7 linked regions of the Homo sapiens genome follow. The protein of the gene in region 2 interacts with the protein of the main gene of each other region in a pairwise test. Each region holds a gene or a part of one and is shown on either strand. Other genes may lie near its edges.

Evidence for each region.
Region 1: the proteins of TMEM243 (region 2) and TMEM80 interact in binary tests that used the Homo sapiens proteins (3 or more experiments, as listed by UniProt).
Region 3: the proteins of TMEM243 (region 2) and FAM174A interact in binary tests that used the Homo sapiens proteins (3 or more experiments, as listed by UniProt).
Region 4: the proteins of TMEM243 (region 2) and BIK interact in binary tests that used the Homo sapiens proteins (3 or more experiments, as listed by UniProt).
Region 5: the proteins of TMEM243 (region 2) and EBP interact in binary tests that used the Homo sapiens proteins (3 or more experiments, as listed by UniProt).
Region 6: the proteins of TMEM243 (region 2) and RMDN3 interact in binary tests that used the Homo sapiens proteins (3 or more experiments, as listed by UniProt).
Region 7: the proteins of TMEM243 (region 2) and RETREG3 interact in binary tests that used the Homo sapiens proteins (3 or more experiments, as listed by UniProt).

What each region holds. Positions count from the first base shown.
Region 1 is NC_000011.10:698,451-702,466, reverse strand, and holds part of TMEM80 (transmembrane protein 80), read right to left. Parts: intron 3,599-4,016; coding exon 3,579-3,598; intron 2,326-3,578; coding exon 2,232-2,325; intron 1,853-2,231; coding exon 1,760-1,852; intron 1-1,759.
Region 2 is NC_000007.14:87,198,918-87,203,526, forward strand, and holds part of TMEM243 (transmembrane protein 243), read right to left. Parts: intron 3,838-4,609; exon of another isoform or gene 3,263-3,837; intron 2,310-3,262; exon of another isoform or gene 141-2,309; coding exon 90-140; exon of another isoform or gene 1-89.
Region 3 is NC_000005.10:100,558,785-100,563,393, forward strand, and holds part of FAM174A (membrane protein FAM174A precursor), read left to right. Parts: intron 1-3,269; coding exon 3,270-3,404; intron 3,405-4,609.
Region 4 is NC_000022.11:43,120,193-43,124,801, forward strand, and holds part of BIK (bcl-2-interacting killer), read left to right. Parts: intron 1-3,823; 5' UTR 3,824-3,830; coding exon 3,831-3,991; intron 3,992-4,609.
Region 5 is NC_000023.11:48,527,012-48,530,325, reverse strand, and holds the end of EBP (3-beta-hydroxysteroid-Delta(8),Delta(7)-isomerase), read right to left. Parts: coding exon 3,301-3,314; intron 3,172-3,300; coding exon 3,041-3,171; intron 2,093-3,040; coding exon 1,869-2,092; 3' UTR 1,610-1,868; downstream 1-1,609. UniProt on the Homo sapiens protein: Isomerase that catalyzes the conversion of Delta(8)-sterols to their corresponding Delta(7)-isomers a catalytic step in the postlanosterol biosynthesis of cholesterol.
Region 6 is NC_000015.10:40,734,744-40,738,720, forward strand, and holds the end of RMDN3 (regulator of microtubule dynamics protein 3), read right to left. Parts: intron 3,834-3,977; coding exon 3,758-3,833; intron 3,300-3,757; coding exon 3,222-3,299; intron 2,984-3,221; coding exon 2,885-2,983; intron 2,599-2,884; coding exon 2,545-2,598; intron 2,462-2,544; coding exon 2,381-2,461; intron 1,852-2,380; coding exon 1,798-1,851; 3' UTR 1,144-1,797; downstream 1-1,143.
Region 7 is NC_000017.11:42,578,616-42,582,904, forward strand, and holds the end of RETREG3 (reticulophagy regulator 3), read right to left. Parts: intron 4,192-4,289; coding exon 4,059-4,191; intron 3,656-4,058; coding exon 3,198-3,655; 3' UTR 900-3,197; downstream 1-899. UniProt on the Homo sapiens protein: Endoplasmic reticulum (ER)-anchored autophagy regulator which exists in an inactive state under basal conditions but is activated following cellular stress.

The sequences.
Region 1 (4,016 bases), on a different chromosome or scaffold from region 2:
GGTGCCTGGAGACCCTGCAGTGTGCGGCGCGCTTGGGGAGGGTCCCGTTGGCCTAGCAGCCCCCAGCAGGGCCAGGCCACACCCTGTCCCCACCACCTCAGGGCAGGCCCAGGCCCCAGAAGATCAGCCAAGAACCGGGCCTCTGTGCCGCAGCGGTGCTCGCACCCTCCCAGCAGTGCCCGCCCTGGGGGGCAAGCTCTAGAGGTTCTGGGACGTAAGTGCAGACAAGACACTGACGGCCGGGCACCCCTCAGTGGGATGGGCAGCTGAGAGAACTCGCCTCCATCCTCCTAGTGTGTCTGAGGCCTGATAACAAGAGGAAGGGTGGGGGCCACCCTTCCCCGCAGCCTTGGTTCCTCACTGGACATCAGGCATCAGGGGTGTATCTGTATGTGAACAAGAGGGGCCCAAGATTCCAGCCTGGCAGGGGCACAGCGCCCTGGAAGTGCCCATTGCGTTCCCCACGGCAGGACAATGTTTCACAAACACGTGTGTTTAGGTGCACATGTTACGACCATGAGCACGCAGAGGGCTGGAAGTCTGCACCCCGCTGGCCACAGAGGTGAGCTCTGGGGAGGGCGAATTTCCATGTTTTACTTCTGCACCCCTTGAATCTTGTACAAGAACATACCCTTGAACAAATTGTGTGGTTAAAAAAAGGGGAGTGAGGCCAGGCACTTTGGGAGGCCAAGGTGGGCAGATTGCTTGAGCCCAAGAGTTCAAGACCAACCAGGGTAACATAGCGAAACCCTGTCTCCGGCCGGGCGCGGTGGCTCACGCCTGTAATCCCAGCACTTTGGGAGGCCGAGGTGGGCGGATCAGGAGGTCAGGAGATGGAAACCATCCTGGCTAACATGGTGAAACCCCATCTCTACTAAAAATACAAAAATGAGCCGGGCGTGGTGGCGGGCACCTGTAGTCCCAGTTACTCGGGAGGCTGAGACAGGAGACTGGCGTGAACCCGGGAGGCGGAGCTTGCAGTGAGCCAAGTTCACGCCACTGCACTCCAGCCTGGGCGACAGAGCGAGACTCTGTCTCAAAAAAAAAAAAAAAAAAAAAAGAAACCTTGTCTCGTCTCTACCAAAAAAAAACAAAACAAAACAAAACAAAATTAGCTGGGCGTGGTGGCAGGTGCCTGTAATCCCAGCTACTTGGGAGGAGGGGAGGGCTGAGGCAGGAGGATCGCTCAAGCCCAGGAGGTCAAGGCTGCAGTGAGCTGTGACTGCACCACTGCACTCCAGCCTGGGCAACAGAGTGAGACCTCGTCTCAAAAAAAGTAGGTCACTGGAAGGGGTTGCAGACTTGGGGATCCCTAGAGCTGGAGTGGGGAGGCTGGGGGCTCCCACCCCTCCAGACTCTGCTGCCTTTTGGGACCTGGCAGAACTCTCCAGGGCTCTCTCCTCAGACAGCTAAGGGCAAGGGGAAGGAAAGGGGTGCTGGTGAATATTCCGGAGCTCCAGATGTGGTGGTGGGCTGGGCTTTTCTGATCTCAGTGCCATTACCCAGTGGCTTCTACAAGACATGCTTCCAAACACAGAGTCTCTCCCAACGATGCCCCCAGTGTTATTTGTCTCTGGGACAAAACTTCTTGATTAATACTTAATGACACTGTAAGGTGAGCCTGCAAAGCAACTGGGTAAGCAGTTTGGATAAAAAATGTCTCTGAGAACCACACTATAAAATAATTACTCTTGAAAGGCTGTGGAAACAGATAGCAACTCTTAGGACAGGTTCTTCACGGTGTTAACAGTCCACTCACCCAGGTATAACCGAACTGCTTCTAGAATCCCCATCAGAAACAGCAGAGCAAGATCGAGGACCAGGTAGCGGTGAGGATAGCTGAACACCTGACCTGAAGAGCAGAGGCGCGGACGGAACATAAGTAACCTGGCACAGCAGCAGCAGCCACCTCAGCTTGCCTTTTCCTTTTTTTTTTTTTTGAGACAGGGTCTTGCTCTGTCACCCAGGATGGAGTTCAGTGGCGCAATCTTGGCTCACTGGAACCTCCACCTCCCGGGTTCAAGCAATCCTCCCACCTCAGTCTCCCGAGTAGCTGGGACTACAGGCGCCCACCACCACGCCCGGCTACTTTTTGTGTTTTTAGTAGAGATGGGGTTTCCCCATGTTGGCCTGGCTGGTCTCAAACTCCTGACCTCAAGTGATCCGCCCACCTCAGCCTCCCAAAATGTTGGGATTACAGGCGTGAGCCACTGTGCCCGTCCCTGACTTACTTTTATACGTGATCATCAGGAGCGTGGCGAGGAAATACAGGGCGTAGTACGTTCCGCTGAGATAAAACAGCATTTGAAGGGGAACTGAAGAGAGCTGGTGAGTGGTTAAGGATCCTCAAGCTCAACAGGCTTGGGAGCAGCCTCCCAGGTGGCTGAACAAGAGGGGCTGGTTCTGTCATCTGTTTGGTGGCCACAGACACCAAGGGACCATGGAGTCTTGGCAATGGCTCACTGCCTATCTGAGGCTTCTGTCACTATGCTGGCTGCCAATGTGGTCCCATGAGCTGACAAGGCCTTTGTGGGACCCCCCTCCATGCCACAACAATGCGGTCTGTGCACTGCAGCCCCTGCCCTCCTGACTGTGGACAGGACTGGTCAGGGGACAGCCTCCACACACTGGCATCCCCAGTGATGTCACCCTGCCTTTGGCCCCAGTTATGAGTTAAGAGAGAAAAAATAACTTTGTCATTTTCTTTTTTTTTTTGAGATAGAGTCTTGCTCTGTTGCCCAGACTGGACACTGTGCAGTGGCACAATCTTGGCTCACTGCAACCTCCGCCTCCTGGGTTCAAGTGATTCTTCTGCCTCAGCCTCCTGAGTAGCTGGGATTACAGGCGTGCAAAACCATGCCCAGCTAATTTTTTGTATTTTTAGTAGGGACAGGGTTTCACCATGTTGGCCAGGCTGGTCTGAAACTCCTGGTGTCAAGTGATCTGTCCACCTCAGCCTCCCAGAGTGTTGGGATTACAGGCATGAGCCACTGCGCCCGGCCACTTTTTTCAGTTTCTTCAGAGGAAATATATTTCTGTTTGGGGGACTTAAGTATCTAGTAGCCATTTCCTGAGCTGTGTACATTTCCTATTTGTTTATGCTAACATGAGTCTATGGGGCCAGGCACAGTGGCTCCCGCCTGATGCCAGAGCTTCAGGAGGCTGAGGCTGCAGTGAGCTGTGATTGCCACACTCCAGCCTGGGTGAGAGGAAGGCTCTGTCCTTAAAAAAACATAAACAAACAAAAATAAAATAAAATGAATCTAGGGACAAAGTGAGGGATTTCCATCTTCCTGCCACTAGCGGCCGAGACAGAGGCAGGTGGCCATCGCCTTGGGAGCCGGCAGTGTGGCGTGCTTAGCCACTTTGTGCAGGGCTGAGCAGGTAGGGGATGGAGCCAGCAGAACTGATCCGAGGAAGTTACATCAACTCTCTAAATCTGTCAAGGAACACCCCCCTCTCCAAAGTGGAATTACTAGACAGAACTTAGGGAAAACGTGGGGTGAGGCCGAGTGCTCTCTGTGCAGCAGCAATTCGGGCCTCTGGGTGCTGTCCTGGAGGGGCACGCAGCAGGATACCACTGTGGAGGATCCTCTCCCTGAAAGAGAAAGGGGCCGTGAGCAAGGCCTGACAGCCACCAGGATGCTTTCCCGGGTCTCGCTCCACACTGACAGGAACCACCCCTGCTTTATTTTCCTTTGATCTCGTATTTGTAGAAAGCAGCAAACATATACCGTGGGCCTGCCACTAGATAGCTCCCGTGCCTCTCTAACCATCCTTCAATGAGGCTAGGAGTCTCTGCCTTTCAGAACCTGAGGCTGGAGACAGCGAGTACCGGGGGCACCGGGGTGGGAAGTGAACCTGGGCCAGACCCAGCTGGCCCTCAGGGAAAGCAGCACCCTGGAGCCCACCCCAACAGCTGCTCTCATTGTCTGTGGCTCACCGTCTGTGGCTTCTCCGTATTTGCCACACATATATGACTAGATGAAAACCTTTTCTGACTTAGGTTGTAACAA
Region 2 (4,609 bases):
TTTAGCTTTTTTTGGAAAGTTAACCATAATTGATAAAGTTTTCAAAACTGGCTAAGAGCCTGGGTGAGGCACAAAATGAGGATACTTACTAGAATCAATAAGGATGTTAAGCTGCCAACAACTAAATTGATGATTCGATCCTGAAAGAGAAAAGAATTTTTAAGCCATATGACTTGGATCCATGTTACCTTCAGTATAGTACAATGCAAGGCATTTGGATGGTTTACTATAAAGAAACCCAAGATCCAGTCCTCTGAGCTTTACACATAAAACTACCAGACAAAGCAAAGTGTACTGAACCATAAGAGTGGAAAATGTACTTTGGGAAAATGGCCAACTGGGGAAGGTTTCTTGAAGGGACAGAACATTTATACTAGAGTCTTGATTGGGTAGTATCAAATGGGTAAGGGAGGCTTACAAATAATGCATGTGCTGCTGAGGATAGCATAAGCCAAAGGAGAAGGACAGGCACTGCAGGAATGGCCAGGCCAGAGCATTGGTTAAAGGTATCAGGAACCGGACTAGATGTAGAGTACCATGATGTGTCTGGAACTATATTTGTAATACAGCTTAGGTATCCTTGTCTAGTCTAAAAATAGATGCTACTGTTAAAAGGGATGGGTCCTAGAGTGCCAAGGCTTGGCACTTGCAATCTTAAGAGACCATCCAGTCCAGTAGTTTTTCCAAGTTATTTAATAGTGAAGGGCTTTAGTATATAAACAAAATATTGGTTGAATGAAGAACCTACCTACTGAGCTTTCTTGTCATTCCCATCCCACCCCAACCAACAAAGAATGTTTGAAAAACTGATCCAATCCTAATTTTACAGGTTAAACTAAATTTAGGCCCAGTGTGGTTAAATTATTTTCTAAGAGTCATAACAAGTTAGAAGCAATTTTGAAACCAGAGATTCCTAAATCCAGGTCACTGGTTAGAAGTAGTTTCAGGTACTACTAAAAAGGTAAAGTATGATAGTGACATGCAGTCTTATTTCTGAGAAGTCAAAGCTGAGTCTTTAACGAATCAGTCGTCTTAAATGTTGTTTTGATAATGGTCTGAGCAGAGAATGGCAGGATATGGAACATGCCGCCAATAAACAAAACCTCAGAGATGGGAAGGACACAGGAACAATCACAGAGCAGCAACCGAATTCTCATTTCCAAGTAGTCGCCTTTTAAGGATAAGAACCCACAGAAGTTAAGAGTCAGGCAAAATTGGGAGGGAAAGAGTAAGAAAGCCAAGTATTGGATGTGTGTGATCTAACCAAGGACAAATCACAACTCTCCAGACCAAGGCCACTGCAACTGAAAGGTTACAGAACAAAAGATACTGGACTCCAGCCACACCCTAACTCCAGAGGACTCAGAAGAGATCTTACCACGACCTCAGCTAGAGAAGCCTACACAGCACACAGGAGCCTGAACTTAGGACCACTTTGTTAGGAAAGGGACCCAGGGACAAGTCACCACTCACTTTAACTTCTTCCCACATGGGACAACATAAAATGTGTAGAGAGACAAAATCCATGGGAGCCCCACTATTTTTGAGAAGCAAGAATATCTGCTGCTCTCTGAGCGCCAGGGATTTCCAAAATGAAGCACTGCATACCTCATAACAGCTCCCACCAATAGAAGTCAAGCCAATATATCACTAATTGCCAAATGACACACAGCAAGTTGCCTACCAGGATCAAAGTAGGAGAAAAATAATGGTAAAAGGATATTAACTATGCCAAGCACATTCACCAATCCTCTCTTTAAAAATTCTAGGATGAAATGGTAATATGACTGTTTCACAGGTAGCAAAACAGGCTCAGGGAAACTGAGAACTTTCCCAAGATCTCAATACCATTAAGTGATAAAGACAAGATTCAGTGCCAGGCCTCCTTTCCCTATTTATGCTTCTCACCCAAAGAACAACCTAGAGTGCTAGTGCTGGTCTAGACAAAGATGTCAAGTGGCAGATGACACCTCAAAAAGCCTATTAGCAAAGTACTACACTGTGCTTACCTTTCAAGAATGATTTCCTCATGGGTGACTTTGTTCCACATTTTTGGATTTCTCCATATAACTGATTTTAATCATCCTGATGAAAATATATCTAAACTTTAATGAATACTTTCCTGCCTACCTTTTAGATAGTCACTGAACAGAATTCCAACAGATTTTCATGAATATCAGTTATTGTTATAATGTAGTGGTCCCCTCTGGGATTCCCAAGATGGGATGAACTATTTCGGACATGGCAGAAGTGTTTCTCAGAATATTTTCTTTCTCCAAGCCAAGGCCTTCTATCAACCATGAATTCAGGTATGCAGAGTTAACTTCAGAAGCCCTCCTACTTCTAATGCTCTCTGTTTTAAACTTGCTACTCAAAGTGTAGTCTATGAACCAGCACATCGGCCTCACCTGAGAGAACTGCAAGAAATGCAGAATCTTAGGCCTCACTGAGACCAACTGAATCAGAATCTGCGTTTTAACAGGATCTGGTAATTTATGTGCACATTTAAAATGGAGAGGCTGTGCTCTAAAGTTTAGTCTAAAATAAGCCATTTTTAAATATTAAGTTCAAATCACAGGGTACAGCTCCTTCCCTGGGCCTAGAGATTATTTTTCAGGGTTTTAGCAGCTCTTCTAGCTCCCAATCTCCAAAGAGGATAATAGAGAATAATTAAATAGCTAGTTAATTAACACTTCAAAGGACAGTTTGGGGAATAATATGCTCCAAATTGGAGCTAGAGTACATGGAGAAAAGTGAGTAATACATTTAAACTTTGCTGTTTATGGAGTAAATTGAAACTCATTATTTCTACTTCTACAGCTAGTCTCTATTAACTCAATTATTTCTCACAGAAACTAGCTCTGTCTCCTCCCCAGTTTTATTTTCACTCTAGTTCTACCTACCATAACTTGTCTCTCCTACCAGAATTTTAAACCTTGTACTGTGGCTTATTTTCACTCCACAAGGAAGCTTGACAGGACAAAGGATGGCAATTAGCCTGGATCCTTGCCTGCTGAGAGGACAGGATACAGATTTAGGATTTCCTTCCCAGAGACAAAATATTCTGCAACAGGTTTAGAGATAGTCTGAATTCATATATACATGAACATAAAGACAGACGTTGTGTGCATACATACATGTATATATATAGTTGAGATTTCACCTATATCATCTTGTAAGTCATATATTTATGCATTTAAACATTATCTACTATAATTCAGATGCAAATACAAAAGTGAATAAAAACATCTCTACCTTCCAGAAGTTTACACTATCCAGAGTTCAGGAGGGCACTAAGAAGACAGAAAGTGAGCTATCTTGGACAGTCAAGGAGAGACTACCAGAGAAGTCAAAACCCTGAGGAAGACTAGCAGATGAAAAGGAAAGGAAAGATGGTTCATGAAAGGAATTCCACAAAGACCCATGGGAGAACAAAAGCATTGCTGTTACAAAAAATCAATGGGACAAATGGAGATTGTTGACCAAGTTTCATGAGAGCTGAGAGGAAAAGAGCTGGAATGCAATGCACAGTGAAGAGCCTGGGCCTGACGGATTCATGTCTTTGTCTTCCTTTAGAATGAGGAAGGAGAAAAAGATGGAGATATATGCAACTGGTTTGTATCTGGAATGGTGGAAAGCAAGTAAGGAGTGTTATCTCTATTTACCAATGGGTAACTAGGTTCCAGAAGACTGACTTGCCAAAGGTCACACGGCTAGGTAATGGCAAAAAATCTCCTATCCAATGCTGTTCACAAAAGACAAGTGTAATGAACAGTTCAAAAGGTCTAACAGTCCTAAAACTAATAAATACAGACCTTAACACGGTCTAGAAACCAAGGTTCTCATCTCATTCTGCCACTAGCTAGCTTCGTAACCTCAAAAGGATTCCTTAACCCATTTGACTCTATCAAATGAGAAGACTGGGCTAAATGATACCTGGTCCCTTTCAGTTCTTACACTTTATGGTTCTGAATCACCAGACTGCACTTGGGCCAGAGAAGGACTAATCCCCTAGTGATTAAAAGCCAGAGAACCCCTATACTTGCCTGGTCAGTCATTAGCCAGCATCTGCTAGAGAAACTAAAACTCAAATGATCAGGTGGTAACAATGGCCCTGGGAGGAAACTGGCAATAACATCCCAAATAACCAAAAGCTAGCTCTGCCCTCAGCTCCTCAGCTCCCTGGAAATATCCTGGTTCTAAACAGTTTGGAATGCTTACAAGCGACATTGTATTCAGCCTTCCATTTCCATGGCAATGTTTTGCCTACTTCCAAAATGAATTTCAAGGGCATGTGCTACTATAATAAAACCCTAACCTAACTAACCAACAATAAAAAGACCAAGACAAAATTTCGAAAAGGCTTTGGGGAATGGTGGAATGGGGGGGAAAAAAAGCTAAAGAATCTACAAAGGCCAGGCATGGTGGCTCACACCTGTAATCCCAGCACTTTGGGAGGCCAAGGTGGGAGGATCACTTGAGTTCAGGGATTCAAGACTAACCTGAGAAAAATACTGAGACCTTGTATCTACAAAAAAAATATAAAAATTATCTGGGTTTGATGACATGTGCCTGTAGTCTCAGCTACTTGGGAGGCTGAGGTGGGAGG
Region 3 (4,609 bases), on a different chromosome or scaffold from region 2:
GCTTGGTAGATCTTCCTCCATCCCTTTATTTTGAGCCTATGTGTTTCTCTGCATGTGAGATGGGTTTCCTGAATACAGCACACTGATGGGTCTTGACTCTTTATCCAATTTGCCAGTCTGTGTCTTTTAATTGGAGCATTTAGCCCATTTACATTTAAGGTTAATATTGTGATGTGTGAATTTGATCCTGTCATTATGATGTTAGCTGGTTATTCTGCTCCTTAGTTGATGCACTTTCTTCCTAGCCTCGAGGGTCTTTACAGTTTAGCATGTTTTTGCAGGGGCTGGTACCAATTGTTCCTTTCCATGTTTAGTGCTTCCTTCAGGAGCTCATTTAGGGCAGGCCTGATGGTGACAAAATCTCTCAGCATTTGCTTGTCTGTAAAGTATTTTATTTCTCCTTCATTTATGAAGCTTAGTTTGGCTGGATATGAAATTCGTGGTTGAAAATTCTTTTCTTTAAGAATGTTGAATATTGGCCCCCACTATCTTCTGGCTTGTAGAGTTTCTGCCAAGAGATCAGCTGTTAGTCTGATGGGCTTCCCTTTGTGGGTAACCCGACCGTTTTCTCTGGCTGTGCTTAACATTTTTTCCTTCATTTCAACTTTGGTGAATCTGGCAGTTATGTGTCTTGGAGTTGCTCTTCTCGAGGAGTATCTTTGTGGCGTTCTCTGTATTTCCTGAATTTGAATGTTGGCCTGCCTTGCTAGAACTTCCCTATCCAGGGAAGTTCTCCTGGATAATATCCTGCAGAGTATTTTCCAACTTGGTTCCATCCTCCCCATCACTTTCAGGTACACCAATCAGACGTAGAGTTGGTCTTTTCACATAGTCCCATATTTCTTGGAGGCTTTGTTCGTTTCTTTTTATTCTTTTTTCTCTAAAATTCTCTTGTCACTTCATGTCATTCATTTGATCTTCCATCACTGATACCCTTTCTTCCAGTTGTTCGCATTGGCTACTGAGGCTTGTGCATTCGTCATGTAGTTCTCTTGCCATGGTTTTCAGCTTCATCAGGTCCTTTAAGGACTTCTTTGCATTGGTTATTCTAGTTAGCCATTTGTCTAATTTTTTTTCAAGGTTTTTAACTTCTTTGCCATGGGTTCGAACTTCCTCCTTTAGCTCGGAGTAGTTTGATCGTCTGAAGCCTTCTTCTCTCAACTCGTCAAAGTCATTCTCCTTCCAGCTTTGTTCCGTTGCTGGTGAGGAGCTGCGTTCCTTTGGAGGAGGAGAGGCACTCTGATTTTTAGAGTTTCCAGTTTTTCTGCTCTGTTTTTTCCCCATCTTTGTGGTTTTATCTACCTTTGGTCTTTGATGATGGTGACGTACAGATGGGGTTTTGGTGTGGATGTCCTTTCTGTTTGTTAGCTTTCTTTCTAACAGTCAGGACCCTCAGCTGCAGGTCTATTGGAGTTTGCTGGAGGTCCACTCCAGACCCTGTTTGCCTGGGTTTTTTATAGAGAAAGTTTAGACCTCTGGTCTACATGGTGTGTGTGGGTGTGTTTGCACACATACACACACATATACATGTTAATGTAACAACCTAAACATACTTAATTTCTCACTGTGAAAGAAAGAGTACTTTGTATTTCATACTGCTTCATTTTTGCTAGTACTAATATTTACTGACCCTTTCATTGGTTACATTTGTAACTTTAAATGCTATGCTTAACTCTCTGTTTCCTGTTCCATCACTTTAGACGTGTATATAGATAGCTCTATAGGTAATGACTGGTGGAAATTTTCTTTGTTTGTACTCACACTTAGTAACATTTTGTAAATTTTAACACTGAGACCAGGCACTTTACACCCAGGTGCTAATATCATACCTGATGCTTAATAAGACTCAATTATTTGTTGAAGGTATGTTTGTTTTCCAGGAGCTTCACTGTCATGTTTGAGGAGTCTCATGTTGCTCTTTACAGTTGATGTTATAGCCCAAGTATTTCTTATCCCACATATGTCAAACAGAGTAAATCAGAATTTATGTAAACTGATTTTATTTGTGATAACTTGCTGAAATATTTTCTATTTATTTTCAAACTCCAGTGGACACTCTTGTGAAACACATTTTGCTGTCTGTGGAGTTGAAGTTGTTGCATTGGAGATGACTTAGGCATTCCTTGCAGGGTCACAGTTTTGGTCGCCAAAGTAGAAGTCACTCAGACCCTCAACAATTAATTGAAGAACATCTTAATTGATACATCACTGTGCTAGGAAGTGGTTATGTAGTGGTGAATAAAGCAGTCTTGGTTGCTGCCCTCAGAGAACTTAGTGGGAGAGACAGATGAATAAACCCCACATAAACATATACATCAGCACATAGGAATGCAAATTAAGGTAAATGATTTGAAGGAAAAGAACAAGTTATTTGAGACACAAACTGGAAGTAGGACTCTAAATCTTGAGATTTCATTCATATGGCTAATAATGAATGTTAAGCACCCTTGAATCTTTTGAATTTCTCTAAGCCAGTGGTTCTCAAACTTGAATATGCATCAAAAGCATAAGAAATGTTTGTTAAAAGACAGGTTTCTGGGCCCCATCTTCAAAGTTTGTTATTCACTAGGTCTGGGCTAGCCATGAAGATTTGCATTTCTCGTAACTTCCTAGGTGACTGTGATTCTGCTGATCCAGAGAACCACACTGCAAGAACCACTGATCTCAGATAATGGTTTATATCACATTGGAATCACATTTAGAACCTCAACAAAATATTCATATTTAGTTCTTTTTTGCTGTACATTTTGATTCAGTTATGTCCTAAACATGGGACTTTAAAAAATACTCCCAGGTAATTCTAGTGTGCAGCTAGAGTTGTGGGCTATCAGTTTAGTCTGTGAATATGCATATACATACAGTTTCTTAGAGGGGCATCTAAACAGTGGTAAGAAAGCGGGGAGGACATGGGGAAAAGGCTGGAGCAGGAGGTTTCAGTAAAGAAGTACCTGACCTAAGCCTTTAAAAATTAAGGTTTAAAGTACGGTACCTGAATTTAAGGCTTAAAAGTTATTTGTCAACACCATCAGTTGACACAGAGAGAAGAGAGTATGTCAGACAGAAGAAACAGGCGATGGCACATAAACATGTAGGAGTAGGTTTTGTTTCATGAAGTTTAATCCTAGGTGGTAAATTTGTTGCATATCTGAAATGTAACCATTCTGATATTGTTTGCTATGTCAGAAACAGAATAATAATTTATTTTATAAATAAATATAAACTATGCCATATTAAATAATTTTTATTCATTAATTTGTTCTATTTGATAGGATGAGAAGAAGAAACCGAAAGACTAGGAGATATGGAGTTTTGGACACTAACATAGAAAATATGGAATTGACACCTTTAGAACAGGATGATGAGGATGATGACAACACGTTGTTTGATGCCAATCATCCTCGAAGGTAAGTATTCCAGTAGTTTAATTCCATGAATCAGGAAGCAAGTCCTTGCCAAGTAAACTGAAGAAGTAAAGTAGACTTTCATTTAACAGCTTATATTCCAACACAGTTTCTTCAGTTCTGTTTACTGAAGTTCTTTTTGCTATCTACCCCATAGCTCACATTCACGTTGTTTTGCTCAAATAGATACAAACAATAGAATACCATCTCAAAATATTTTTTTTAATTTATTCTTCTGTTTTTATCTTTTATTTTAAGTTCAGGGGTACAAGTGCAGGGTCGTTACATAGGTAAACTTGTGTCATGTGGTTTTGTCGTACAGATTATTTCATCACCCAGTTATTAAGCCTAGGACCCATTAACTTCTTCATTCTTGCAATATGTATTAACTTGGGTGTGTGTGTGCATGTGTGTTTGTGTGCGTGTGTGTTTGTGTGTGTGTGTGTGAGAGAGAAATACTTATTAAATTTAATTTCCTTTTTGTATTCTGAAGATATTTTCTTTTTAGTTTGGGTTCTAGTGTTTGTAAATAGTGCTGCCTTGCAGAATTGGGGGACTAATTGTTTATGGTCTGATCATGTAGCTGTAATATATATACTGAGATCTATTCTCAGTAAGTGTTAAGACCTTTCCTAAGAGGTTTAGATAAATAAAATGACATGAGTATAGAATAAATGCCAATGTAAATAGAATGGGGAAAAAAGCCAACAAAGATTCAACCTAATAAGGAAAGACATCTTGGAATCCAGAGGGATTACTTGGGTGAAGGAGAATTAGAGTCCAGAGTCAGGTACAAATGCAAAGAAAACAGAAATCTTAGGATTACAGAAAAGAAGATGACTCAACAAAAATTGGACTACTAAGTCCTGTATATCTATATTTATATCTATATATGTCTATCCATCTATCTATCTAAGCTGTTTATATATATGCACACACACAAAGGAACTTTTAGTAATGCTGATAATTTGTTCATTTAATACAAATATGTTCATGAATTATACATTTTAATAGTATTACAGCCTGAATAGGCAAACATGAACAAAACAATTGCATCTGTTCTTCAGGCACTCACTTTCAATTAAAGACGCATATAAGATGAAAGAAAAGGGACAGAAACTGATATTCCATGCAAATGGTAACCAAAACAAAGCAGGGGTTGCTAAATTTATATCAGACAAATTAGATTTTAAGTCAAAAACTATCTC
Region 4 (4,609 bases), on a different chromosome or scaffold from region 2:
CCCCACTTGTTTTTGAGACAAGTCTTGCTCTGTCACCCAGGTTGGAGTGCAATGGCGCGGTCTCGGCTCACTGCATATTCTGCCTCCTGGATTCAAGTGATTCTCCTGCCTCAGCCTCCCAAGTAGCTGGGATTATAGGCGAGCGCCACCACACCTGGTTAATTTTTGTATTTTTAGTGGAGATGGCGTTTCACCATGTTAGCCAGGCTAGTCTCAAACTCCTAAGCTCAGGTGATCCACCTGCCTCCACCTCTCAAAGTGCTGGGATTACAGGCGTGAGCCGCACTGCACCAGGCCAGGTCTAGGGAGCCGAACAGAGCAGTGACAGGGTCAGGGTTGAGGCTGCTACCTTGAGATTAGGTTGGAGAGAGCTCCACTGAAGGCTGGAGACCAGTAAGGCATTCAGAGCTGGTGCCAGGTAGGAGCTGACAGGACTGGGCCTCCCTTGGGCTGGTGGGGTGGCCAGGAGAGACCAGAGCAGGAGGTCGCTGCTGCAAGGACCCTCCTGGGCAGGCTCCCCACCTTCCGCTCCCTGGCTCCACACTTTTCCCATGCAGATCTGGGCCCTAAGGCCAGCCTAGGCCCAGTTGGTGATGGGATCTTTGCCATTCATATCAAGTCAATCTGAGGGCCTGGGCCCAGAGGCCAGATGGTTAAAGGTTCAGATTAGGTCCCTTCTTTGTGGTAGAGGGTAATGGGTATTTAATAAATTAATCCAAAGTGCTGTAATCCCAGTACTTTGGGAGGCTGAGGCGGGTGGATCACTTGAGATCAGGAGTTGAGACCAGCCTGGCCAACATGGTAAAACCCCGACTCTACTAAAAATACAAAAATTAGCCGGGTGTGGTGGCATGTGCCTGTAATCCCAGCTACCTGGGAGTCTGAGGCAGGAGAATCACTTGAACCTGGGAGGCGGAGGTTGCACCTGAGCTGAGATCACACCACTGCACTCCAGCCTGGGCAATAGAGTGAGACTGTCTCAAAAACAAACAAACAAACAAACAAAAAAACACTACCACCAACAAAAACACAATAGATGGGGAAACTGAGGCTGGTGCAGGAAGGGTTGGGCTAGGGTATCAACCTAAGGTGAGATGTGGTCCTGGGTCTACTCAGATGGGGAGGTTGGCAGGGTGGGGAGCTTGAAAGGGTCTTGCAGGCAGAGCGTGGGTGACTGACTCCTCAGGTAGGCCTGACCTGCACTCTGCTGCAGACCCTCGGCAGCGCAGCCCACTCTGGTGGCTGGGGCCTTCTTCCTATCTGGCGCCTAAGGATTCTCGGAATGCCTGCTGGGTAAGGGGGCTGTGGGCACAGTGGGTCAAGGCGAGGCTCGGTGCAGCTCACAGCTCAGCTCACAGTGAGGTGAGGTTCCACTGTTGCTCTGGCTTTGCGGGGCGTGGAGGTACTGGGGTCTCCAGGAGCACAAAGCAGGAGACTGCCTTTTCGAGGGGAAGGGAAAGGGGGGAAAAGCAAACAAGGGCTGGAGCTGCTTTCCTAGGGAAATGCCATTTGCATAGACACCCAAGGCAGCTGGAAGTTCTGGACACAGTTCTTCTAATGCCAGCTTAACACGCACACTGCTGGCCGTCTATACAATGTAAAACATCTCATCTGTGAAACCTTATTTTTTCTTTTTGAGTCAGAATCTAGCTCTGCCTCCCAGGTTCAAGCTGGGATTACAGGCGTATGTCACCACGCCTGGCTAATTTTGTATTTTTATTAGAGGCGGGGTTTTACCATGTTGGCCAGGCTGGTCTCAAACTCCTGACCTCAGGTGATCCGCCTGTCTCAGCCTCCCAAAGTGCTGGGATTACAGGCGTGAGCCACCGCACCCGGCCCATCCATCTCCCTTGAATGCTGAAAGCAAGTCGTGAGCACACACTTGTGCCTAGGCCTGTGGGAGGGCGGCGCTGTGGGTCCTGCCTGCCGTCAGTTTTCTCTCTCCTGGGGGTCAGGGAGACTTGGAGCTCTGTCCCTTCTTGGCTTAGTCATGAACCTCTCTAAGCCTCAGTGTCCTGTGTGAACAAACAGCTCAGTGAGATGGTGGGAGGGCGGAGTGTCCTGTCAGCAGGCATGAGGAATTAAAAATTAAGAACACCCAGGGCATTATGGTAAGAAAATAATGAGTTGAAGCATAAAGGTAATGGTTAGTGCCAACTTCCTCCCAGCGTGCCAGGCCCTGTTCAAAGTACATGAAGGAGTTCCTTATTTCGTCTTCCCAATAGCCCAGGGCGGGGCTCTCAGACCATGAAACCCATTTCACAGATGAAGAAATTGACACACTGCTGCTAACTGCCAGAGCCGGGCTTTGAACTAGGCCATTAGATTTCCGTGCCACAGTCATCGTCATTATCGTCATCTACATCTAAGGCTGTTTGGTACCCTGTAGGGTAAATGTGGGGTACATGATGGTGAATCAGGTCGCAGAACCCTTCTCTGCCATCATGATGAAACATGTACTGGCATGGGATTCGCAATGATCATAGTTAGGAAGGCCTTTGGTGGCAAAGAAGAGGAAACTCAGTGAATGGTGATGAGGACACATTTGGGTTCATTTTTCTTACACACAGTTGGAGGAGACAGCTCAGTGACACCCTCAGGCCTGGCCGCTCTCTGCCTCCCCACTCTGCTCTTCTTGGTCAGCCACTGCAGCTCCATCTTTGAAGGAGCTGCCCTGGCTGTGTCTACTCCCTGGCATCCAACCCCTGCCTCCAGCCTCTGAGCCCTCATTGACCAGAACTGGGTTACATGGTTGTCACCAGCTGCAAGGGATGCTGGGAAGCTGAGGGAGAGGAGGGCCATGGTTGGCTTAGATGAATGAGGATGCAGGGCCACCCCGAAGAAAATTGGGGTTCTATCAGCAAGGAGCCAGGTGGAATGGATATCGGAGAGGTAAATAGCATCTGCCAGTAAAGAAGGCTGTAAGACACTGTATGGGGTGATCCCATTTGTGAAGAAGGATGTGTGATGCGCACAAGTGTTTAGGAAAAACACTAGAAGAATTAGCGATGGTCTCTCTGGGAATGGGGATTGTGATACGTTTTTCTCATGCTGCCTCTCTGCCTTTCTTCTCAAGAGAAACAGCAGACACCAAAGAACAGGTGTAGCCTTCTGTTAAGTGGTACAGAGGAATCGCCCTGCAGCCTGGCCTCTGTCCCCTGTGCTGACAGCAGGTGCCTGGGTTTTCTGCTTTGACAGGTTCTTGAGGGCTGGTGTCCGAGGAGAACTTCTAATATTTATTTATACTCTGATTTTGTTTCACAAAGAAGAAAAAGGCTGGGCGTGGTGGCTCATGTCTGTCGTCCCAGCACTTTGGGAGGCCGAGGTGGGGTGGATCACTTTGAGGTCAGGAGTTCAAGACCAGCCTGGCCAACATGATGAAACCCCCGTCTTTACTAAAAATACAAAATAATTAGCCAGGCATAGCTCATGCCTGTAGTCCCAGCTACTCGGGAGGCTGAGGCAGGAGAATTGCTTGAACCCAGGAGGCAGAGGTTGCAGTGAGCCAAGATTGTGCCACTGCCCTCCAGCCTCCAGCAAGACTCAGTATCCAAAAACAAAGAAAGAAAGAAAGGGCCCTTATGAATCATCTTCAAGTTCCTCCCTTCCAAGAACAGAGATGCTAGGCGACTTGCCCAGAGGCACACAGCCAGCATGTAGCAGGATTCATGCCTGTGGGAGCTGGGGTTGGGGGATATTGACGGCTTTAGCGGATCAAAAGAGCTGGTGAGTAGGGCTATACAATCTGGGGGTCATCCTGTGAGAGAGCCCCCAGACTGCTCAGTTCTTAGGGGTCCAGTCATATGCTGTCTTTTTGCCCCAGAGGAGAAATGTCTGAAGTAAGACCCCTCTCCAGAGACATCTTGATGGAGACCCTCCTGTATGAGCAGCTCCTGGAACCCCCGACCATGGAGGTTCTTGGCATGACTGACTCTGAAGAGGACCTGGACCCTATGGAGGACTTCGATTCTTTGGAATGCATGGAGGGCAGGTAGGTCCCCATGGCCTGCCCTACCCCCTGCCTGATAGTGACTTCAGGGGTGGGCTGGATGAGCAGACATTCTATGAGCGGGGGAGCGCCTGCAGATGCCTCCCAGGCAGGGCCTCCGAGAGGAAGATTTCCCGGATGTGGGCATGGAGGCTTCTGCCCTGGGAGCGGCTTCACTTTGCTGCCCCACCCTCCCCTGATACCAGCTCACAGACCCCTGGACAGCCAGCATGTTCACAGTCTCAAGATGGACCTGGGGCCCCTGGCTGTCAAAATGGCACAGTGTTTGGGCCTCAGGGAGCTAGACAGGCCCTTAGCGACCTGCTGAGGACATCAGGGCCTCTTGAAGGAGGTGACTCTGTTGCCAGAAAGGGGACCCGATCCAGATCCCAAGAGAGGGTTCTTAGATCTCAAGCAAGAAAGAATTTGGGCCACACGCAGTGGCTCGCGCCTGTAATCCCAGCACTTAGGGAGGCTGAGGCAGGCGGATCACTTGAGGTCAGGAGCTCGAGACCAGCCTGGCCAACATGGCAAAACCCTGTCTCTACTAAAAATACAAAAAGTAGCTGGGCCTGGTGGCACATGTCTGTAGTCCCAGCTAGTCGGGAGGCTGAGGCAGGA
Region 5 (3,314 bases), on a different chromosome or scaffold from region 2:
GGAGTGCAGTAGTGCCATGATGTTGGCTCACTGCCACCTCAACTTCCCAGGTTCAAGTGATTCTCCTGCCTCAGCCTCCCAAGTAGCTGGGATTACAGGCATGTGCCACCATGCATGGCTAATTTTTGTATTTTTAGTAGAGATGGAGTTTTACCATGTTGGCCAGGCTGGTCTCAAACTCCTGACCTCAGGTGATCCACTTGTGTCAGCCTGGGATTATAGGCATGAGCCACTGTGCCTGACTGGTGCCCACCCCCCACCTCCTTTTTTTTTTTAAGACAGGCTCTCACCGTGATCATGGCTCACTGCAGCCTACACCTCCCTAGCTCAGATGATCCTCCCACCGTGGCCTCATGATGCCCAGCTAATTTTCAAAATTTTTTTTGTAGAGATGGGGTTTCACCATGTTGCCCAGGCTGGTCAAATGGTGTCCTCATAAAAGGAAATTTGGGCTAGGCATGGTAGTTCACACCTGTAGTCTCAGCTACTTGGGAGGCTGAGGTGGGAGGACCACTTGAGCCTAGGAGTTTGAGATCAGCTTGGGCAACATAGTGAGACCCCATCTCTACAAAAAATTGAAAAAATATTGCCGGACATGGTGGTTCACACCTGTAATCCTGGCACTTTGGGAGGCAGAGGCGGGTAGATCACCTGAGGTCGGGAGTTCGCGACCAGCTTGACCAACATGGAGAAACCCCGTCTCTACTAAAAATACAAAATTAGCTGAGCATGGTGGCACATGCCTGTGATCCCACCTACCCGGGAGGCTGAGGCAGGAGAATTGCTTTAACCCAGGAGGCAGAGGTTGTGGTGAGCCAAGATCGTGCCATTGCACTCCAGCCTGGGCAACAAGAGTGAAACTCCGTCTCAAAAAAAAAAAACAAAACAAAAATTAGGTATAATGGCATGTGCCTGTTGTCCCAGTTACTTGGAAGGTTGAGGTGGGAGGATCACTTGAGCCCAGGTGTTTGAGACCAGCCTGGGCAACATAGTGAGAGTCCATTGCTATAAAAAAAAATAAATATAGCCATGTGTGGTAGTGCACACCTGTAGTCCCAGCTACTTAGGAGGCTGAGGCAGGAGGATCGCTGGAGCCAGGGAGGTAGAGGCTGCAGTGAACCATGATCATACCACTGCACTCCAGCCTGACACAGAGCGAGGCCCTGTCTCAAAAAAAAAAAAAAAAAAAGGAAATTTGGACACACAGAGAGACACCAGGGACAGGGACGCTAGTTCATAGAGACCATGTGAGGACACTGAGAAGGTGGCCACCTGCAAGCTACGGACAGGGGCCTCAGGAGAAGTCAAACCTGCTGACACCTTGATCTTGGACTCCAGAACTGTGAGAAAATGAACTTCGGTGGTTTAAGCCTAGTCTGTGGCATTCTGTTATGGCAGCTCGAGTTAAGACCAGGGGACTGTGGGGCCAGTGATAGGGTCTGTGTAGTGAGTTATGGGGTCTGGCGGGGGGTCAGTGATAGGGGTTTGTGAGGTCAGAGGTGGGAGGTCTTTAGATGCTGATGGGGGTCTGGAATAAGTGAATGATGGTGGGATCTGTGGGGTCAGTCATAGCGCATCTCTGGGGTTAGTAATTAAGGATCTCTCAGTGTTAGAGTCAAGATCTTTTATTTCCTGATTTTAAAAATCGTCACCATCATAGACCTCCTGGCTTCTCTTGTATCTGTGTTCTAATGGCTCCCAGCAGTGCCTTCACACAGCCCCTTTATTCCCCTTCTTGTGCCTGCCCATGAGCCTGAGTGTGACAGATCAATTAGCTTTGTCCCTCCAAACTGTGGGAGCAGGACTAGACTCTTCTGGCAGGCAGAGAGCTCCTCCTCGGCCAGTGTTCGAGCCTGGTCCACCACTCCTCAGTTCTTCTTGCTCTTGGCTTTTGTGGCCTTGGCATCCAGCGTGCTCTGGGCATGAGTGAGGTGCTTCACAGCATCAAGCACAAGGACTCCAGGCAGCACCAGCCACAGGGCATTCATGAAGACAAAGTAAAACCAGAAGTAGAGAGGGTGGCCCAGCTCTCCGTGCTGGAATCCGTCGCGGTGCTCTGTCAGGAAGTAGAGCACATCCCCATAGATCTGGCCTGTGGGTGGCAGGAGGGGAAGGAGAAGCCCCAGTGAGGAAGGGGACACTTTCGCCAATTCTCTATTCCAAAGCACTTTCCAAGTCATCATTCAAGGTCTCAGAGCTAAGTATTCTGAAATCACAGAGCTGAAAATCTGAGAAATCAGAAAAGTGAGATTCCAGACACCAGAGAGCTGAGAATTTCAGAACTCAGGAGAGCTCACACCTTCAGATTTAAGGAAGTTCAAAATCCTCAAATCCAAGACAGCTTAGGATTCTGGGACTAAAGATAACTCATATCGCTAGAACTAAAGAAAGCTAACAATTTAATAACACAAGATGACTGAGGCCGGGCACAGTGGCTCACACCTGTAATCCCAGTACTTCGGGAGGCCAAGCCAGGAGGACTGTTTGAGCTCAGGAGCTTGAGACCAGCCTGGGCAACATGGCGAAACCCCATCTCTACTAAAAATACAAAAGTTAGCCAGGCACGGTGGCACATGCCTGTAGTCCCAGCTACTCAGGAGACTGAGGCAGGAAGATCGCTTGAGTCTGGGAGGTGGAGGTTGCAGTGAGCCGAGATCACACCATAGCACTCTGGCCTGGGTGACAGAGCCAGACCCTGTTTTAAAAAAAATATGACAGAATCTTACATGAAGGGATCTCAGAGCCCTGATCCTGGAGGTTCCAGGGGCTTCTTGCCACCCTGGGCCACCTCATGTAACCTTCACAGGAGACTTTGTGATGGAGAAGGAGGAGGAGGAAGAAAAATGAACCCTCCCCACCTGAGAGTGCAGGCTCAGAGAAGGGCATGACCTTTCCAGAGCCTCAGGGGGTTTGTCATTCAGTCTGACTTACCCCTGGAAGGGCACCGTTGAGAGATCCCACCCACAGGGATACATCTGTGTCTGTGGATCCCCCATCAACCCCTCTAGTGCCCAGTGCCCCTCTAGTGCCCTTTCCTTACCCACAGAGACCACAAGCTGTAGAATGAAGCGGAGGGGATGCTGGCGGAGAAAGGCGATCACCACCCACAGGCTGAGTGGTCCCCACAGGCAAGCTGTGATGGTTTCCATGCACACTGTGAAGTTGTCACCCCTGCAGGAGAAAGCATGAGGGGACACTGGTATCGGTGTGCTCTTCCTACAGGTTAGCCCATTAGTGCTCCCCAACTCACCACCCCCCGAAAACCAATGCCAGTCTCCATTGACAGAGGCAAACACTTACAGGATGTATCGGCT
Region 6 (3,977 bases), on a different chromosome or scaffold from region 2:
AGGGTAACCTTGTTTTTCCTTGAGGACATTATTGAGACCCTTGGTGGGAGGGGTTTCTGGTAAGGGGCAATTTTGTGTTTGCCTGTTCTTTGGGAATATCACCTGGAGATAGATGGATTCCCAGACCCACCAAATCTAGGTTTTAGACCAAAAAAGAATGTTTTATTATTAGAATTGAGTATATCTCAGGTCCTCTTTCATTACTACAACACAAAATAAATCTGGGGGCCAGGAACGGTGGCTCACACCTGTAATCCCAGCACTTTGGGAGGCTGAGGCAGGTGGATTGCCTGAGATCAGGAGTTCCAGACCAGTCTGGCCAACATGGTGAAACCCCGTCTCTACTAAAAATACAAAAAAAATTAGCTGGGCGTGGTGATATGCCCCTGTAATCCCAGCTACTTGGGAGGCTGAGGCAGGGGAATTGCTTGAATCAAGGAGGTGGAGGTTGCAATGAGCCAAGATCGCGCCACTGCACTCCAGCCTGGGTGACAAAGCGAGACTCCAGCAAAAAAAAAAAAAATCTGGGTTGGTATAATAAAGACACAGTGACATTCTAGATTAAGGGGTTGGTTCTTATATGAAAGCATCTCAATCTTTTTTTTGAGACAGAGGTTTGCTCTTGTTGCCCAGGCTAGAGCGCAAGGGTGTGATCTCAGCTCACTGCAACCCCTGCCTCCCAGGCTCAAGTGATTCTCTTGCTGTAGCCTCTCTAGTAGCTGAGATTACAGGCGTGCGCCACCATACCGAGCTAATTTTTTCTGTCTGTATTTTTAGTAGAGATGGGGGTTTCACCATGTTGGCCAGGCTGGTCTCAAACCCTTGGCCTCAAGTGATCCACCCGCCTTGGCCTCCCAGAGTGCTAGGATTACAAGCAACAAGCATGAGCTACCACGCTCGGCCTATGCATCTCAGTCTTAAATTTTCTTCTAGGTGGATTTAGGGGTTTGTGCTCGTGGCCCTAAAAATGAACATGAGAAAGGCAGGGAGTACCTGCTTAGTTGCAATAGGCCTTGTTTAGGCTAAAAATAAGCTCGATACCTGTATTTTATATACTGTAAAGAGCATTAACCATAACCTGCCTGCAACAGCCTCTGTAGGTAGAAACAATTATGGAGGTGTCAAGTAAGAATAAAGAGCTGATAACATCAAATTTGGTTTATTTCAAGTTTGTAACAAAATATATTCTAGGCAACTTTTCAGACATTGTTTTATAGCATCATAAACCCCATACCACTGCTGTCATTCCAAAAGCTGCCAGGACACTGGAAGTTATCAAGTGGTCCAGCCCAGGAATACAGGTAGAATTCACATGATAGGTGATAAGAAAGCAATGTCTGTGGGCCACTCTGATCCCTCTTTTTACCTTGGTAGGTAAGGTATGATCTTAAGACTATATGTACTGAGTCCTATTAGTCAGTGAAAAAGATTAAAGTGACAAGTTATGTGCTTTGTTCCTATAGCTTTGAAGTTCATCCACCTCACCAGCAATTGGAAGGTCTCAGGTCTTGCAGGCTCTACCCATGTGTAATCCTGGGGCAGGTGTGAATCTTGATTTTTTTAAGAGATTACTCAAGGGAGAGAACAACAGAAACGGAAGCCATGAGTACTGCCCCAATTCTAGATTAGGTTAGAGGTTAGAATAAATTAACTAATGGGGAGTGGTAGTGGGTAGCAGTCAGACCCAGGAGACAGATTTGTGTGGTTTCCTGATCTCAGCAAGGTCTAAGGAAAAAAGCCTCCCCGCCCCCCCACCTTAAATAGTGGCATCAAGTCATGAAGGCCAGTGAAACGTGGTTAGTCTCGTAAAATGACTTCCAGTTCTTCCAGGTCCTTCTGGATAGCCAAATCCTAGGGAGACAAAGAACAAATCTAGGGCTCAAAATTTAAACCAGCATTTTCCCAAACCAGTGGAACCTAAGAAGAGGGGCCCTTTGCTTCCTTCCTGAGCTCTGCTACAGTCTTTTTCCTACTTCCCCAGGATAGCCTGGAGCCTATTAAATCTGTCTCTTCCCCTAGAGGTAGACTCTTTTTTACTAGGGAAATAAGACCTCTAGGAAAGATTATTTTCTAAAAATGTCACATGATGATTCAGTGATGACAGGCAGTTTTGTTTGGTTTTTTTTTGAGATGGAGTTTTGCTCTTGTTGCCGAGGCTGGAGTGCAATGGCACGATCTGAGCTCACTGCAACCTCCACCTCCCGGATTCAAGCGATTCTCCAGCCTCAGCTTCCCGAGTAGCTGGAATTATAGGCGTGCGCCACTAGGCCCAACTAATTTTGTAATTTTAGTAGAGATGGGGTTTCTCCATGTTGGTCAGGCTGTCTCGAACTCCCGACTTCAGGTGATCTGCCCAACAGGCAGTATTAAAAAGCCTTACCTCCTTCGTGACATCTGGCAGCTCCAGGGCCAACTTCATCCACCATCTAGCTTCAGAGTTTTTCCCTAGTTCTCTGTAGCACTGAAAAGAGACAACAGTGAAACCTGATACTGTGTACTTTCAGGAGTTCCCAGATCTATGTTGAAGTAGACAAATGAGTTTACCTTGGAAATATATACCCTTCCTGCTTTGGAAAATCCTGGCTGTAGTTCTTCAGCCTGGGAAAAGGGACAAAGATATTTCAGTAAGAGGTTCCTATATTCTAATCAGGCTGAAGTTTATTAAACTAGATTTCTAGTCCCCAACCATGTGGCTGATTCAGTGGGTCTGAAGAAACCTATATTTTTGATAAGCTGTGCAAGTGATTCTGGTTTTCCCATAGAACAGGCAAACACAAAATTGCCCCCGACTAGGAAAACCCCTCCCATTAAGGGTCTCAATAATGTCCTTAGGAAAAAACAAGGTTACCCTGGTGTTTTTGCCTGCCACCTGCCCCTCTCATACCTTTAGGAAGCTCTGGAGGGCATCTTCCACAGTGGCACTGAGAGGGCTTTCAAGCAAGGCTGTAGCAGTTTTTTTTTCTAGCCAGCTCAGGTGAGAGACCTGCCACAAAAAGATCAAGGTGTGTATAAGAGGTTTTAAAAGGTTTTTTTTCTTTAAATCTTTGGGGATATATTGAAAATAGGGTCAAACGGGGCTGGGTCGAACCACCAATAATACGAGCATTCAGAAGAAAGGGCACCTGAGCCAGAGAAGGCTGAGGATCTTGTTCTTCCTGGCAAGGAAATCGGTGTCAGAAGGCATTTAGGACCATTATGTCAAGCACTGAAACGCAGCTTACCTGATAGCACCACCTGCCAAGAAGAAAGTGAGCCATGGGGTTTTCTGGCTGGAGAGCAATGGCTTTGTCCACATGCTCCTAAGGGGAAAATGTAAATATAAACTAACATCAGACACCAGAGTTGCTAAAAGAGAGGCAAGGGCCGGATGCAGTGGCTCATGCCTGTAATCCCTGCACTTTGGGAAGCTGAGGCAGGTGGATCACCTGAGGTCAGGAGTTCGAAACCAGTCCTGGCCAACATGGTGAAACCCCATCTGTGCTAAAGATACAAAAATTAGCCGGGCATGGTGGTACATGCCTGTAATCCCAGCTACTTGGGAGGCTGAGGCAGGAGAATCGCTTGAACCCAGGAGGTTGCAGTGAGCCAAGATCACACCACTGCACTCCAGCTTGGGCGATAGAGTGAGACTCTGTCTCAAAAAAAAAGAAGAAAGGCAAGTCACTGAGGCTGTAGAAAAGTTTTTGGCAGGGAGCTGGAAAGGAGTGGGGAATCTGGGATAGGCCAGCACAAGGAAGGAGGAAAAGCCTGTCCTCACCTTGAAGCTAAAGCCACTCTGGATGCGCCTCTGGATGCTCTCATGCTCAGCCAGCTGACCACAAAGCACCGCATACCTAGGGGGGAAGCAGCAAGCTCAGGGACAAGGGCTGAGTACCATCACTGCAAGGAATGGATGCCCCAACCACAGCCTAGTTGCATTGTCCCCTATCCCTGTACCCTCAACTAGAGCTGAAAATACCTAATTTTCATCTGTACGT
Region 7 (4,289 bases), on a different chromosome or scaffold from region 2:
TACTGTAGTTTGGACGCCAAGGAACGATAGGGTTAGGAGGGGGCTACTGTTCAACCACAAAGCTTGTGGAAAAGTTTGTTAGCCCAGACAATCTCAGGGCAACACCTGGCAGGTGCTTTCCACCCCTGACCACAGTGGCCAATGGGACAGAGCCTGAAATAAATATTTCTAGTTTCTGAGGTGAGCTGAAGGCCAAAGAGCAGCTGTCCCTGCAGCTCAGACCATCCAGTGAAGGAGTAAGGTGCTACTTTTTAAAGCCTTCTGCTACCTACAACCTCCTTAGCCTTTAAAACGTGTGCTTGTCTCTGCACGTTTAGGAGACAATATTAAGAATTAGAAATGAAAGGGCCGAGCGCGGTGGCTCACGCCTGCAATCCCAGCACTTTGGGAGGCCAGGGCGGGCGGATCACGAGGTCAGGAGATCGAGACCATCCTGGCTAACACTGTGAAACCCCATCTCTACTAAAAATACAAAAAATTAGCCAGGCGTGCTGGTGGGCGCCTGTAGTCCAAGCTACTCAGGAGGCTGAGGCAGGAGAATGGCGTGAACCCGGGAGGCGGAGCTTGCAGTGAGAGATCGCACCACTGCACTCCAGCCTGGGCGACAGACCAAGACTCCGTCTCAGGAAAAAAAAAGAAATTAGAAATGAAGGAAATACAGGCTAAATACTAGCCAAGAGTGCCAGTTATACTGATGGTGGGGCTCTCACAAGAAGGAAAGTAGCCTCATACTATGGTGATGTTCTGGCCATCACGAAGTAAAAATAGGGGTGGGCTGGTGGGTCCCTCATACCTGGGCTTCCTCTTTTAAGGCTATCACTTCAAATTAATCAGAACTCAGATTTACAAGAGAAGACCTATCAAGGGTAGGACACCATTCAGCATCAGTCTCTTAAAGATTGTTCTCATACAAGATTTATTCCCCAGCACACCCCTCCCCTCCTCAGTTCACAGTGGAGACTATGGAGATTCAGGGCAGGATCCCTCAGGTACAAGAAACACCTTCCGAAGATTTTGCTCTCCTTCCTTCCCTCCCTCTTGCCAACTCCCAAGGCCTGAAGCGCACACTCATGCAAACACACGAAATCCCCCTCCTTCCCCACACCTCCTGTCTTTCCACATCAGAGCTCTGAACTTGAGAGGTGTCAAAAGTCTGTTTGAGAAGCCTAAAGTGGGGAGATGCCATTACCCCTGACCACCCCACTATGAGTGACTATGAGACACCTAACTCTTCCCTCTTCTGTCAACCATTTTCACTCCCTGGCCTCTGTACCTTCTCCATCAACCAAGAGCAAACATGTCAGCACACCCCCACCTGCAGTACATGAAAACAGGCTCTGTCCAACATCCCTCACCCAAGTACAGGGGTGTTGGGGGAGTGGCCCCTGAGGATCAGCAAAGGGTTAATGCAGAAGGAAAGAGGACAGAAGCGTTTGGCTTGAGCTCTGCTTGGGGAGGCAGAGGCTATAGACTGGCACAGGTTTAGAATCAAGTACCATGTTTAGGTTTCTGTCTCACATCACATGATTTCACTAGGGGCTGCAGAACAGATACCCCTCAGAGGGGTCTCTGCTGATTACAGCCACATTCTTACTATTGGCTCATCCTTAAAGGAGGCCCCACCAAGTTGGGAAGCAGTTGAAAATAAAAGCTGTAAAGGAGCTGAACAGGAAGTAAGAATAGGTGGTGCAAGAGATTATGGCCCCTGGGATGAATGACATGGAGCCATTTGTAAAGTGCTACTGTATCATCCCCCATGAATTATTGCTTCTCCAAAGGAGGAGCAGAGGAAGGAACAGGAACATAGAAATGAGTATGGTATTGCTTTGCTCACTGCTGAGGCTGATGGCCAGATGGACCCAGGGGTTATCAGAAACCGAAGATTAACTACACAGCTCCAGAAGACTCAGACCTCAAAATACAGAGGTGCTCACTAATCCTCCCAGCCAGCTGATCCCCCTGGGCCAAGGTAATGTAGAAGAGGCCCATCCCCACATCATATTCACATTTTTTAAATTTCACAAGCAATACTTTGGACCACTGGGGTTCAGGCCCCAAGAAATGATGGGCTAGATGAGAGGGAGCAGGCCTGTTCTGCAAAACCAAAGGACAAGTTTGCTTTAAAAAAAAAAAAAAATCACGCTGGGCACAGTGGCTCACACCTGTAATCCCAACACTTTGGGTGGCTGAGGCGGGCTGATCATTTGCAGTCAGGAGTTCTAGACCAGCCTGGCCAGCACGGTGAAACCCCATCTCTACTAAAAACACAAAAAAATTAGCCGGGCATGGTGGTGCATGCCTGTAATCTCAGCTACTGAGGAGGCTGAGGTAGGAGAATCGCTTGACCCGGCAGGCGGAGGCTGCAGTGAGCCGAGATTGTGCCACTGCACTCCAGCCTGGGCAACAGAGAGAGACTCTGTCTCAAAAAAAAAAAAAAGAAAAGAAAAGAAAAGAAAAAAATCAAATCCTGGTTTAACAAAAGATGACGACTAATCCCAGCACTCTGGGAGGCCAAGGCAGTCAGCTCACTTGAGGTCAGGAGTTTGAGACCAGCCTGGCCAACATGGTGAAACCCCATTTCTACTAAAAATACCAAAAGAAAAATTAGCCGGGCATAGTAGCGGGCACCTGTAATCCCACTACTAAGGAGGCTGAGGCAGGAGAACCTCTTCAACCTGGAAGGCAGACGTTGCAGAAAGCCAAGATCACACCACTGCACTCCAGCCTGGGCAACAGAGCGAAACTGTCTCAAAAAAAAAGATGATGACAATGTAACTACTCCAGCTGCTGCCTGACTTTGGGGGCTCTAGAGAGGCGATGAAAGGAGGAAGGCAGGCATGGGCTCTTTCAGTGAGGGCCCCTGAGCACTCATACCTAAAAGCAAACAGCAGCACCTCCTCAAAGGGGAACCAATATCCCTGACTATTTTGTTCCCCCAAAGTACCATCCTGATGGAGAGAAGCCTCCCTTGGGGGAGCACACTCTCACTTCAGTGACTGAGCTCAGAAATGGGCATCCAGCTGGTGGGAGGGGAGTGAGTGTCCTCTCTAAGGAGGCCTCTGAGCATCAGCCAGGCCACCCAGCATACAAATATAATTCAGGGGAGGGGAGCTGAGTTCTTCCCTTGCCCCATCACCTTAAGTGGGATGGGGAGAAAAAAACCTAAACCACAGTGACTCCCAAAAGGAGTCTCTGCCTCAGTGGCTCCTAGAACTGGCAGGGTCCAGCTGACTCAGCTCCGACTGGTCCAGAAGTTCAAAGTCATCCCCCTCAGCATCAGTGTCCAGGTCTGAACTGGGGGACCGGAGGAAGCCTCTCGTTGCTCTCTGGGCAGGTGCTCCAGAAGGGCCTGGTTGGGAGGCCCCTGACAAGGCCAGCTGAATCATACCCTGGGAGACCAGGCTGGCAAGGTTGCTGGTGAGGTTGGATCCTACAGGAAGAGCACCAAGCAGGAGCTCCGGCAGCGCAGCCTCGTCCCGGCTGGCAGGTGGGGCCTGGGGCTCCTCAGCCCCTGGCGGAGAACGGTACATCAAGCTGGGCATGCCAATGCTAGTGTCGTCCTCATCATCCAGGCCAGCAGGATCCATATTAATGGAAGGGAAGTCTGGAAGGTCTCTGGCAAAGGATTCCTCTGGATCACTGTGACCATCTAGGTCTGGTGGAATACAGAAGTGTCTGAGTCATGGCACCTACCTGGCCCTCCTGTGCCCCAGCCCCACATGACCAGATTTTTCCCACCCTGGCTTTCTCAGGGCGAAATAAACCCATGGGACTGGTATACCTTTCCCCTCCACTTATAGGTGGCTGTGATCTCTACACAATTCCCCCTCTCTTCTATGTCCCCTGTGAGGCTAGTGCCTGAGGCTACTAAGGGACTAAAGTCTTCAAGAAGGGCAGCAGTGCCATCCTGGCTGTAGCCACAGCACTCAGGCTGCTCTGCCGCCTGATCCATAGCTCAGAAAACAGGAGAGGGGCAAGCACCAGTATCCCCTCTGTTCAGGGAAGCTAAGAGGCAACAGTCAGAGCCATTATCAACTGAGGTCAAAGGCTCCCCTCACCTTCAGAGCCTTCCGTTAGAGGTGTTTGGCCCCTTGAAAGATTGAATGTGCCATTGTCTGTACAGGAGACTTCAGCGTCTGAGTGCTCAGAGTCTGTGATGGCCAATTCCCTGGCAACAGTAGAATCGTCCAGCTTAGGAAAAGACCAACAAATGTGAGATAATGCCATCAGGAACCAGGTGTAGTCACCAGGTACAGCTTTACTAATCAGCTAGCATTAGTTATCCGAAG